2 separate regions of the Homo sapiens genome follow, and region 1 is linked to region 2. The links come from fine-mapping of genetic effects on gene expression. Tissue or cell type: monocytes after LPS. Region 2 holds a variant in brackets; the other region holds the start of a gene. All regions are shown on one strand. Distances are between the middles of the regions.

What was found. PIP is the estimated chance that this variant, and not a neighbour inherited with it, causes the effect.
Region 1: it holds the start of PALLD, and the variant in region 2 is fine-mapped to the expression of PALLD in monocytes after LPS (Fairfax 2014, PIP 0.95).

Annotation. Positions count from the first base shown.
Region 1 is chr4:168,494,048-168,499,281 of GRCh38, reverse strand. It overlaps PALLD (palladin, cytoskeletal associated protein), which reads right to left and starts at 2,230. Exons shown (of 22, transcript NM_001166108.2): 1 at 2,088-2,230. All of the region lies in intron 1 of LOC107986198 (a long non-coding RNA gene), which reads left to right.
Region 2 is chr4:168,738,797-168,744,030 of GRCh38, reverse strand. The region is part of intron 10 of PALLD (palladin, cytoskeletal associated protein); the gene reads right to left. Among named protein-coding and RNA genes, the nearest start is that of PALLD-AS1, 93 kb to the right of the region's middle. The variant A/CA (reference allele first, on the strand shown) is at 2,687.

The DNA.
Region 1 (5,234 bases), 240 kb after region 2:
TCCCTCCCATCCTCCCTCCCTTCCTCCCTCCCTTCTCCCTTCCTTCTTCCCCGTCTCCCTTTCTTTCTTCCTTCCTTTTTTTTTTTTTTTTTTTTTTTTTTGCTACAAAGGGTCCTTTAGGGCAAAAGTCAAACACGAAAATTTTATGAAATTTTATGTTTGATGCAGAAAATGCACTACAATTTTATAATTTATTTCTTAATAAATACACATGGATTATTTTCCTTTCTAATTATTAAATTGTCAATGCAGGCAGATATATTTATCCTACAGTTTTAAATATCTCTTTAAACAGCTTATTTAATCTCAATTTCAAGGACATAATCTAATAGCTCATTTAATGCAGAAACAGCCAAATAAGATACTTTACAGAGTTTTTGAAGTTATCCCATGTCCTGTTCATCTTATCAACTTTATTCACCATACTGAGTCCATTGCAAATATTTAGATTTTACTTCTGAATTATCCATTTCCATTACCATTATCCAATTCAGGGCTTTATTCTTCTCACTTAAATTCAAAACCTATTTACCAAATTTGCTTCTATATTCTCTAATATGATTTAACAGTTAGAAATTTTAGTCGAAGATACTTTGTTCAATCTTTGTTTTCTTTGCTGTAATTTCACCGGGACACAGTCATTAACTCTAGATGGCCTGAATTTCTAACTGGAGCTCAGTAATTGCAATACCCTTTGACAGCCTCCACACACATATTGTTTAAGAAGTGGAGCTCTTGTCTGGGCCTTGCAGATTCCACTTGGTATCTCTTAAAGAACTTGTCATATTTATTTTTAAACCTGAATAATGATTGCCCTCTACATTTTTAAAAAATGAGGTAAGGAGGTCAAAGTGATTGTACTTGTCCAGTGCAATCCAGATCCTCATTCTATTGTGAAATATGCTATAAGGCCAGTTTTAATATTCAGCTCTAGCAATAACAGAGAAACCCAGAGGAAGAGCTGACACAGAACCCCTGGGATACAGACCCTAATCCATACCAGATTCTAGGATGCCAGAGGACTAATTTATATTCTAGGAATGTGTAATCATGTATTTACAGGGCAGTTAGTGGCCAGATAAACCTCATCGGCCTTTTCTGCTGTTAGCAATAACTTGTCAAAGAGACTTTGATTTTAAAAATCTGAAAAAAAAATCTGAATAATTGAGGTGAGTATTCAAGTTCTTTCTGTGAGAAAAAACATTGGAAGGCACATTTATCATGAAATGAGGATTTAATTTCTGCATATATGTGATTGAATAGATTTGTAATAGTTTTATATTGCCAAGAAATGGCTTTATATGTCACCACATTATTCATACTAGAAGGCAATTAGTATTTTTAGCAAATGTTAATAAGTAATATGAGCCTGAAATCATTTTATGTCAACCTCCTATATTGGATTCAAGACAATTTCATGTGCAACTTAAAACAACATGATAAAAATTATTCTGTGATGTTTAAACTTGACTGGACTCGAGATTGCACTGTGGTTTCCCTTAGTAAGCGTTATCTTATTAAAAATATGTATGTAAATTTTATGCATGAATATAATTTAAAATACCTGCTGTTACTATCCCAACTCATTTAATTATGTCCAGTGAGTTACTTTTAGAATCTTTTGAAAGTGTAATTAACAATTTATAATGTTACTGAAATCTAAGGTCTATCACTTTAAGCCATCATCACTTATCTAGCTTAAATATGGGTGAGGGTCTAGAAAGCTGCGTTTTCCTTTTCTGTGAAACATAACACATACACGATCTTGACAAAAGCTGGCTCCATAAATACATTTAATCCTTTTGGAATTGATAGCACCATCTTAGCATGCTTAAGCTTATAACAGAAAGTGTAATTCTCTGACAGCAAAGGCAGAGATGAAGTGGGCAGGCAAATCTTACGTATTATCTGTTTTTGGCAAAACCGTAACATTCTCATTACGTTTCCTCTCCAAGCAAAAGAATAATTAAGGTATCTTGTAAATAGTATCATATCTTCAGAAAAACTTTTGTATTTTTAGTTTTTTTTTTTTTAAGTCCTTAAAATGTTGCCCTACTAGTTAGTATATTAAGATACACCTTACAGACCTTTTCAATGCTTGGTCAGTTTGAAGACTCCAGAGAGGTGATGAATTTCAGATGAGCATTTCTTCTTTTCTGGGAGAATGGAGGTTGTGGCCTTGCCTATTCATTAGAGACTGCCTGGTCCGTGGTCACTTTGAGGCAACTGTGGCCTCAGACTCTCATCTGTCCTCTTACTCCACTCAGCTATATTTGGTAACTGAGCTCATGTTTCAGCAGACTGCCACGATCAGGAATTCCAGCAGCGGGCTGGGAAGCACCCCCAGGACCGAGGGCTGGGTTCTTAGAAATAAAGCCACTTAACATAGAAGGAACTATATTTATGGATCTGATAAACGTAGGATTTAAACACATTCTTCTATACTTTGGACTTGTAGCTGGAAATCACCACCTGGACCTTTAACATGTTCTTAATCAATTTAAAGTACAGTATGTGACTCCAAGTAGAAAAAGTGATAATCCAAATGGAAGCTCTTCTTACTCTGATCTTCTGTTCTGTGCATTTAAATTTTGGTCATGTGCTAGATTACCCTAAAATAGTAAATTCAGTAACTGAAAATTTAGCCACCTGTCAAATTGAGTGGAAAGTCCCATTGTTCTCTTATTTCATATTGCTAATTAAAAATTGATATATGACTATGGTATGTATTAAAGGCCTTGTCTATAATAGTATTAAATAAGTATGAACACACAGGGACTGGATCTTATCCACATTGCAACATTGAGTTCTTAGCTCAATGCCTAGGACATCATGAGCATCTCTTAAATATTTGTCAAAGAAATAAATGAATGTTGAATGAATAATATTCAGGAAAAGTATCAACCCTCTTACAGTTGCAAAAAATGTTTCACAATCATTTAATATTTTGATCTTTCAAATGACAAATAGATATAGCAAGAGTTTAATATTTTGATCTTTTAAATAACAAACATAGATAGCAAGAAGAGAAAGCTTTTCTGTTTAAAGGTCAGGTAGCAGAATCAAATATAAGGGGGGCAAAAAGAGCAACACAAAAGCTCCCAGTTAACTTGGAAATGGGGTGCTGAGTCTTCCTTTGTCTGGGTAAGACCATCACATTTGATTCAGTTTAATATCTAAATATTTTTTCTTTTCTGATGTTAGAAAATTTGTGAAGGTCTGCTATTGTATTTTCTTTATAGGCCAAACTGGTCCTTTAGAAATGGTCCTTTCTGTGAGTGGATACTTCTGTGGGTCATTTCATCTATTATATTAATTAAGAAGTGATTTTAAAATTTATACTTACGGCTGGGCGTGGTGGCTTATGCCTGTAATTGCAGTACTTTGGGAGGCCGAGGTGGGTGGATCATGAGGTCAGGAGATTGAGACCATCCTGGCTAACACAGTGAAACCCCCTCTCTACTAAAAATACAAAAAATTAGCTGGGCGTGGTGGCGGGTGCCTGTAGTCCCAGCCACTTGGGAGGCTGAGGCAGGAGAATGGTGTGAACCCGGGAGGCGGAGCTTGCAGTGAGCCGAGATCCCATCACTGCACTCCAGCCTGGGTGACAGAGCGAGACTCCTTCTTAAAAAAAATAAAAATAAAAATAAAAAAATAAAATTTATACTTACAAGGAAATATAACTCTGATTGATTGTCTTAGTTTGTGTCATTATAACAAAATGCCACAGACTGGGTAATTTACAAAGAACAGAAATTGATTTCTCATAGTTCTGGAGGCTGGGAAGTCTAAGATCAAGGTGCCAGCAGGTTTGTTGTCTGGTGAAGTTCCTGTCTCTGCTTCCACAGTGATGCCTTGAGCACTGTGTCCTCACATGGCAGAAGGTGGAAGGGCAAGAGGGGGTCAAACTTCCTCCATCAAGCCCTAAGGGCATCAAATCCCATTCATGAGGAGTCCTCCTGAATCACCTTCTAAACGTTACACCTCCTGATACTGTTGCATAGGGGATTAGGAATCAACAAAAATTTTGAAGGGGACAAAAACCTTCAAACCATAGCATTGCTTAAACACATATTTATATCTGCTTTTTCCTAAAACCACAAGATAATAGTAAAAACTGAAAAGGGCAGAAATTGGGAGGGAAGACAATAGAAGATATCAGAAATGAACAAAATTGTTGGAAAGAGATAAATATAAGTATGCATGTAACTAAATTACAAAGCTTAAATGCCTGCAGGAGGAGATACAGAAAAGAAGCAAGTGATTCACCCCATGGAGTCTCAGAAAGGCTTGGGAATAGGAAGCAGTGAACCCATCTTTAGAAATAATTTTAATTGGCAACTCTGATTTTTGCCTCTGCCTTCTGGTGAACTGTGAGTCTCATGGTGAATTCCAGAGGCAATCATGTTGGACTACTGGCCAGACGAGGCCTCTCCCACATTTCTTTGGATTGCTTGGTTCCTAAATCCTGGTATAACACCAGTGAAGTGATGAAGCCATAAGAAGAAAAAAGAAAAAAAAACAGCTTGTGGTCCTGAGAGAGGCTTCAAAGATGGATATGACTTTACTCAAAAGGACACAGAAATGTGACCTTTTTGTGTGTGTATTGCAAATAGTGCAGCAAACCAAGCTTGTTTTAAAAATCTTATAAGAAGTTCTTTTCCTTAGAAAATTGGCATCAAAAAAATTTAGAAAGTTTGATCAACACTCTTAAGTTAGTATAGCAAGGTCCAGTTGATATTAAGGATGAGATTAGTGTGTGGACAGTAATATCATTTCTCATGCACTTTCATATTTTCCACCAGAGCCCATTTCTGTGTGCACGAAGGTTGGGAAAGGGAGTCTGTGGCTCCTTCATGGGGCTCCAGTTCAGCTTTCAAATGATTACTTCTTCTTATAGAAATTCCTGCTCTTTTGAAGCACTTATATTTGCATCAACCATCCTCCATCCCACTTTTTAAAATTAAGACTTTGGATCTAGTTGGGCTCTTGGTTCTCTTCTTCACTCCACACCCTGCCATTATTCTGGGTGACTCAGCACCCATTTGTCTATTCTATATGTTGGCATATTGGTTTTGGACCTGCTTTTCTCTATGAATCTTCATCTCTGTTCCTCTTACAGATCACACAAACAGACCTCCTCCACCTCCAAAATCAGATATAACTTATCTACTGCTTCATAACAAATTACTGCAAAAATTAATGTCTTAAAACAATATATATTTGTTATTTCA
Region 2 (5,234 bases):
AGGCAAAGGCAGAGAACTCTGTGGAGCTTTCAGACTTAGATTTTTTTCTGGGATTCCCCTCTATCTATAGCAAAGATTTCTCAGACAGTGGAAGCAAATTCCCATCTGTTAAAATTTGGAAATTTCCAAATCCCCCTTATTTATCTTGTGCTTGTTTTGGAAAATCTGGGAGATGTCCACAGATAGATACATGGCGGTCTCCTGAAGGATGTTTTTAAAAGATTGCAAAACTGAATCACAGTGAAAGTCAAACTGCAAGCAAGCTCTTATTTTTCGGCTCCATGCCAGACCTGACCAAACAAAGCAAGCAGAAAATAAACAAGGACATCAAGTTAAAAGACCCAGTCATCAACCTCATTCAAACTGTTATCCATAACAGAGACCAGGGTGAGCATCGCCAACCAAAGTTCTAAGTTTAACTTTAAGCTACTTACAGACCTAAAATCATGGTACTGCTCACTTAGTAGGAATTGAACAAACCCATCAAATCTTACATTATAAGTTGGAATTTTGAAAAAAGGAGTGCCTTTTCATAGAACTGCCTAGTGATAGGACAGGAAACATCATCATTAATGTCTTTTATCCAAATCTGTAGTGTCCCCATTAAAAAAAAAATCTCGAAAGTAATTGAACCATATTAAGTTTCTGTCTTAGACACTGTGCTAGTTGCTGGGGATTAAACCATGATTGAGATCTTCATAGATATCATGTTCCTTCAGAATATGATAGCCGCGTGGTGTAATCAAGCATCCAGATGGATGTCACTCAGTGTGACAATGAATTCAATCCACCCATTAAACAAAGAAATATTTATTGAGTGTAGATTATGTGCCAAACACCAGGGCAGGGGCTGGGGCAAGGTAAAGAATAAGATATAACACAATCTCTGGTGTCAGAGAACCCTGAGAGAGTAATTGCGTGAGAGTTATCACGCAGTAGAAATTTCTACTGCTGGGGAGGACACAGAAGGCAATCTATTCTAGTCTATAGCTCCTGGAAGGCAGAGAATGGCGTTTAAACTAAAAGATGGTAGGAGGTGGTCGGGCAAATGGAGATTACAGAAGAGAATAGCAGGAGGAAGGCCAGGAATCCAGATGACCTGAATCACTGAAAATCAAAAGGAGGGAGTGAGATTGTCAAGGCATTCTTTGTAGTCTGAAGGAAATCCAACTACATTCAATAAATTACTAGAATTCTTTCCTTATTTAGTGCTAAACAGAAAATATACAACTGTCAATCAGAGCTTATGATTAACATATGTAGGGTTAACATAGTGAATATGATTGCCACTAGATGCAAATACACCCATCATTTCAGTTGAACTGTGAAACGAACTAGATCTTTTGAAATACTGAAAACTACTAAAAAATTCTGATTATTGATTTTCTTTCACCATAGTTGGGAAACACTGTTCTAATAACTTAGTATCTGGAGCAAAAGAACTCCTGAGTCCGGTATGTTCATGGAACAGAAACTGTTCAGGTCCTCAAAGCACCAGGCATTTGACCTTCTAGCCAAATGAAGTACTTCTATGAAAATGAAAGAACATCTTAATACTATCATAACACTTTAAACAAACCTGGCTTTAAAACACACAGTCTTCTCCTCTCAGTGACTTATTTCAAATGTACTTATTCCTTCCCTGGGATAAATTTGGCCTCTGTATCAACCCAGAGGTCAGAGAGCTAAGAACACCTCCCCTTTGAGGGATAAGCAAAAGCAGGAGCTGAGAGAGTAGACACAGCATAGGTCAGATAAAAAAGATGGATTTGTTCATGATGCACTGGGTATGGAACTCAAGAAGGACGGAGAGATGGACAACACTTGCCAGTGATGCAGAGAAGCCACGACCTCTACATTAAAATCCATAAAGCCCTCTAAGTAGAAAAATCCAGTTGAGCACCATCCATATGGCTTCCTCAGAAACACTCAGAATAGCAAAGCTCCCTAGATGCTGGGCAGCAAGAGCACAGGTGGTGGATCTGCCAGCTTTTGCCCGCACTGGAAAGTCAGAAACAAGTGGGCTTTCTCTAGTGAAGCTGGGACATGTCAAAATGCAGCCACTTCCCCTTTTGTCCTGGTCACAGGGCACTGGGCTTTGGCGTGCTCTGACAAATCGAAAAATAAAGTCAGCTGTCAATGAAGACTGGTTCCTTCGCTCTCCCACCTCTCCAAAATGTTTCTGTTTATTCTCCAAGATTTGTCCAATAGGAGCTTTCCAGGACCACTGAGCCTCATCAGAAGAGGCACTCATGTTCTAGGTCTTTGCAGGATGAATTGCTCTTTTTATTTTCCTCTTTCTCTCTCTCTCTCTCCAACCATTCTTTTTTGTTTGTTTTTTGTTTTTGAGATAGGATTGTACTCTGTCGTCTAGGCTGGAGCGCAGTGACACAATCATAGCTCACTGCAGCCTTGAATTCCTGGACTCAAGTGATCCTCCACCTCACTGTCCCGAGTAGCTGGGACTACAGGCATGAGCCACCATGCCGGCTACTTTTATTTTTTTTTAAAGAGCCATGGTCTTGACGTCTTGCTATGCTGCTCAGGCTGGTCTCAAACTCCTTGGCCTCAGGCAATCCTCCTACCTCTGCCTCCCAAAAGTGCTGGGATTATAGGCGTGAGCCACCACGCCCAGCCTTGACAACTATTCTTATCAAAAAGATCACACACACACACACACACAAAA[A/CA]AAACAAATATAAGGAAGGAATGTTTTTTAGAACTTGGATTTCCTCACTAGCTCAGGAGCCAGTGACCTCATATTATAGCGATGAAGACAAATAAGAATAGTTTCTGAATTGTCACTATTCTCTGTAATTTCTTCCATTTTTGGTGTCCTTGAAACATGACAGCAGTACCAACTGGATAAGAGTGATCCGCCATCCAGAGTTTGATTTAGTTTTATGGAAATGAGCCATATATAGGGATAGATCATGAAGCCAATGGGAAACATTTAAAACTTGAGATGAAGTTAATCAAGCCCGTATTACACTTAACAGTCTTCTCTATTAAATAAACTTCTCTTCCTTCAAGATACTATTTTGAACAAATAAGATTTCTGCAATTCTGCAAGACTGAAGTTAATTAAACAGCATAGCAAAATGGAAAACAGATGTCACAGAACATTTTCAAAGGATTTTAATGACATTCAGCCTATTTTCTTAGACTCGTTTGCAGTTGCTATCGTACCCTGCACTTAAGTAAGTTCCTGAGTTGTTGGAATGGGAGGATTTATATCCATTTCATATAACTGGCAGTAGAAAATCTATTCAAAGAGAAGTACAGTTGTGGTAATCTTGCAGAGTTTTTTTGCTCCATAACCTGACTGGCTCTTTTGGCTTAAACTCTTGAACTCTTTTAAATTAATGTTTTCCATCTTTCAAAAGAACTTTCCATCTTTCAAAAGAACTTTCCATACCACCAACTCTGATTCTAATTTTTAATGGTTCTTTCTGGTAGTCTCAGGCTTAATTATTCTGAAAGCGCCTGCAAGATTGACTAAGAAACTTAGTATCTGTCAATTCCAGCTCAGAAAAAAAACCACAGCATGAGGAAATTTTGGGAGATGAAACTCCTTGTTAATTCAAGTATAGGCATCCACAGTTAGATTTTTAATGTAGTTTTTCATACATTGAGGAATATTATATTCAAAATTCAAAACTGCAAAGGTCTCTTTAAAGTATCAAAATTTCAGATGACACTGAAGAGAAGAAGTAAGTTTACTTTCTCAAAAAGTGCATTCAGAAGGAAAATGTAGAGTGACCAAACAGGGATTATAGAGAATCTTGTGACTACTTTTCTTCTTTTGTAACTCATCCTTTAAAGCATCTTTTAAGATGTTTCCCAGTGCTTGAAACCATGTGATGATTACTGACATATGTCCCAAGAAGCATTACAAAATTTACAAGTTTTTTTTTTATACAGGAAGCTCAACTACCTATTAAAAATGGCATGTGTCATTTTTTTTCCAGTTTCAACTAACATGGGAATTAAGAGGAAGCAATGAATTATCATGCTGCCTGTTGTTTATATAAGCATCCCGTGCAACTTTCAAACCAGGGGCTGTTTTAAGCTGAAACAATGGTATCTTTCAAATCAGAGAAGAGATGACATAAATACATGCTACGAGTGTGAAACAAAGGGACAAGAATTCTAATTAGAGCAGCAATAAAGTAAACCTGAAACAAAAATTCACGCAGTAAATAGGTACCCTTATCTTGGGCAATGGCTTGTTTCTGGTGCTGCCTTTATGACGTGTGTGATGGAGAGGACTGCAACTTCTATATTATCAACAACATGGGCTTTTTTCTTGTCTGGACTTTTAAAAAGTTGATGCAAGTGTTTGTACATATTAATGGGGGATATGTGATATTTTGTCACATGCATAGAATGTGTAAGGATCAAGTCTGGGTATTTAGAGTATTCATCAGCTCAAGTATTTATCATTTCTGTGTTGGGAACATTTCAAATCCTGTCTACTAGCTATTCTGAAATATACAACAACTTTCTGTTAACTATGGTCACCCTATTCTGCTAACGAACATTAGAACTTATTTTTTCTAACTGATGTTTTCACCTATTGACCAAGCTCTCTTTATCTTCCTCCAAAAACCCTTCCCAGCCTCTAAGAAAAGGGAACTTATATATTGTTGGTGGGAATGTAAGTTAGTATAGCCACTATGGAAAACAGTATGGAGATTTCTCAAAAAACTAAAAACCGAACTACCATACCATCCAGCAATCCTACCACCGGGTACTGATCCAAAGGAAAATGAATCAGTATATCAAAGAGATACTTGCGCCTCCATGTTTACTGCAGCACTGTAGCCAAGATATGGAATTAACCTAAATGCTCATCAATGGACCAATAGATAAAGAAATGTGGTATATATACACAATGGAATACAATTTGGCAATAAAAAAATAACGAAAGGCTGTCATCTGCAGCAACATGAATGGAATGGGAGATCATTGTGTAAAGTGAAATAATCCAGACAAAGAAAAACAAATATTGCATGTTCCACTCATACATGGGAACTAAAAATGTTGATTCCATGAAGGAAGAAAGCAGAATGATAGATACCTGCCTGGACTCTATGCTTGAAAGTCTTTTCCTTTTATTTCTAAGAAAGCTTTATAATTAACTATTTTTTTCAAGAAATATTATACAGTACTCATTAATGTTGCCATCTGTAATTTTTGATATGCTAGGTATTAATATAAAAAAAGAGTAAGAT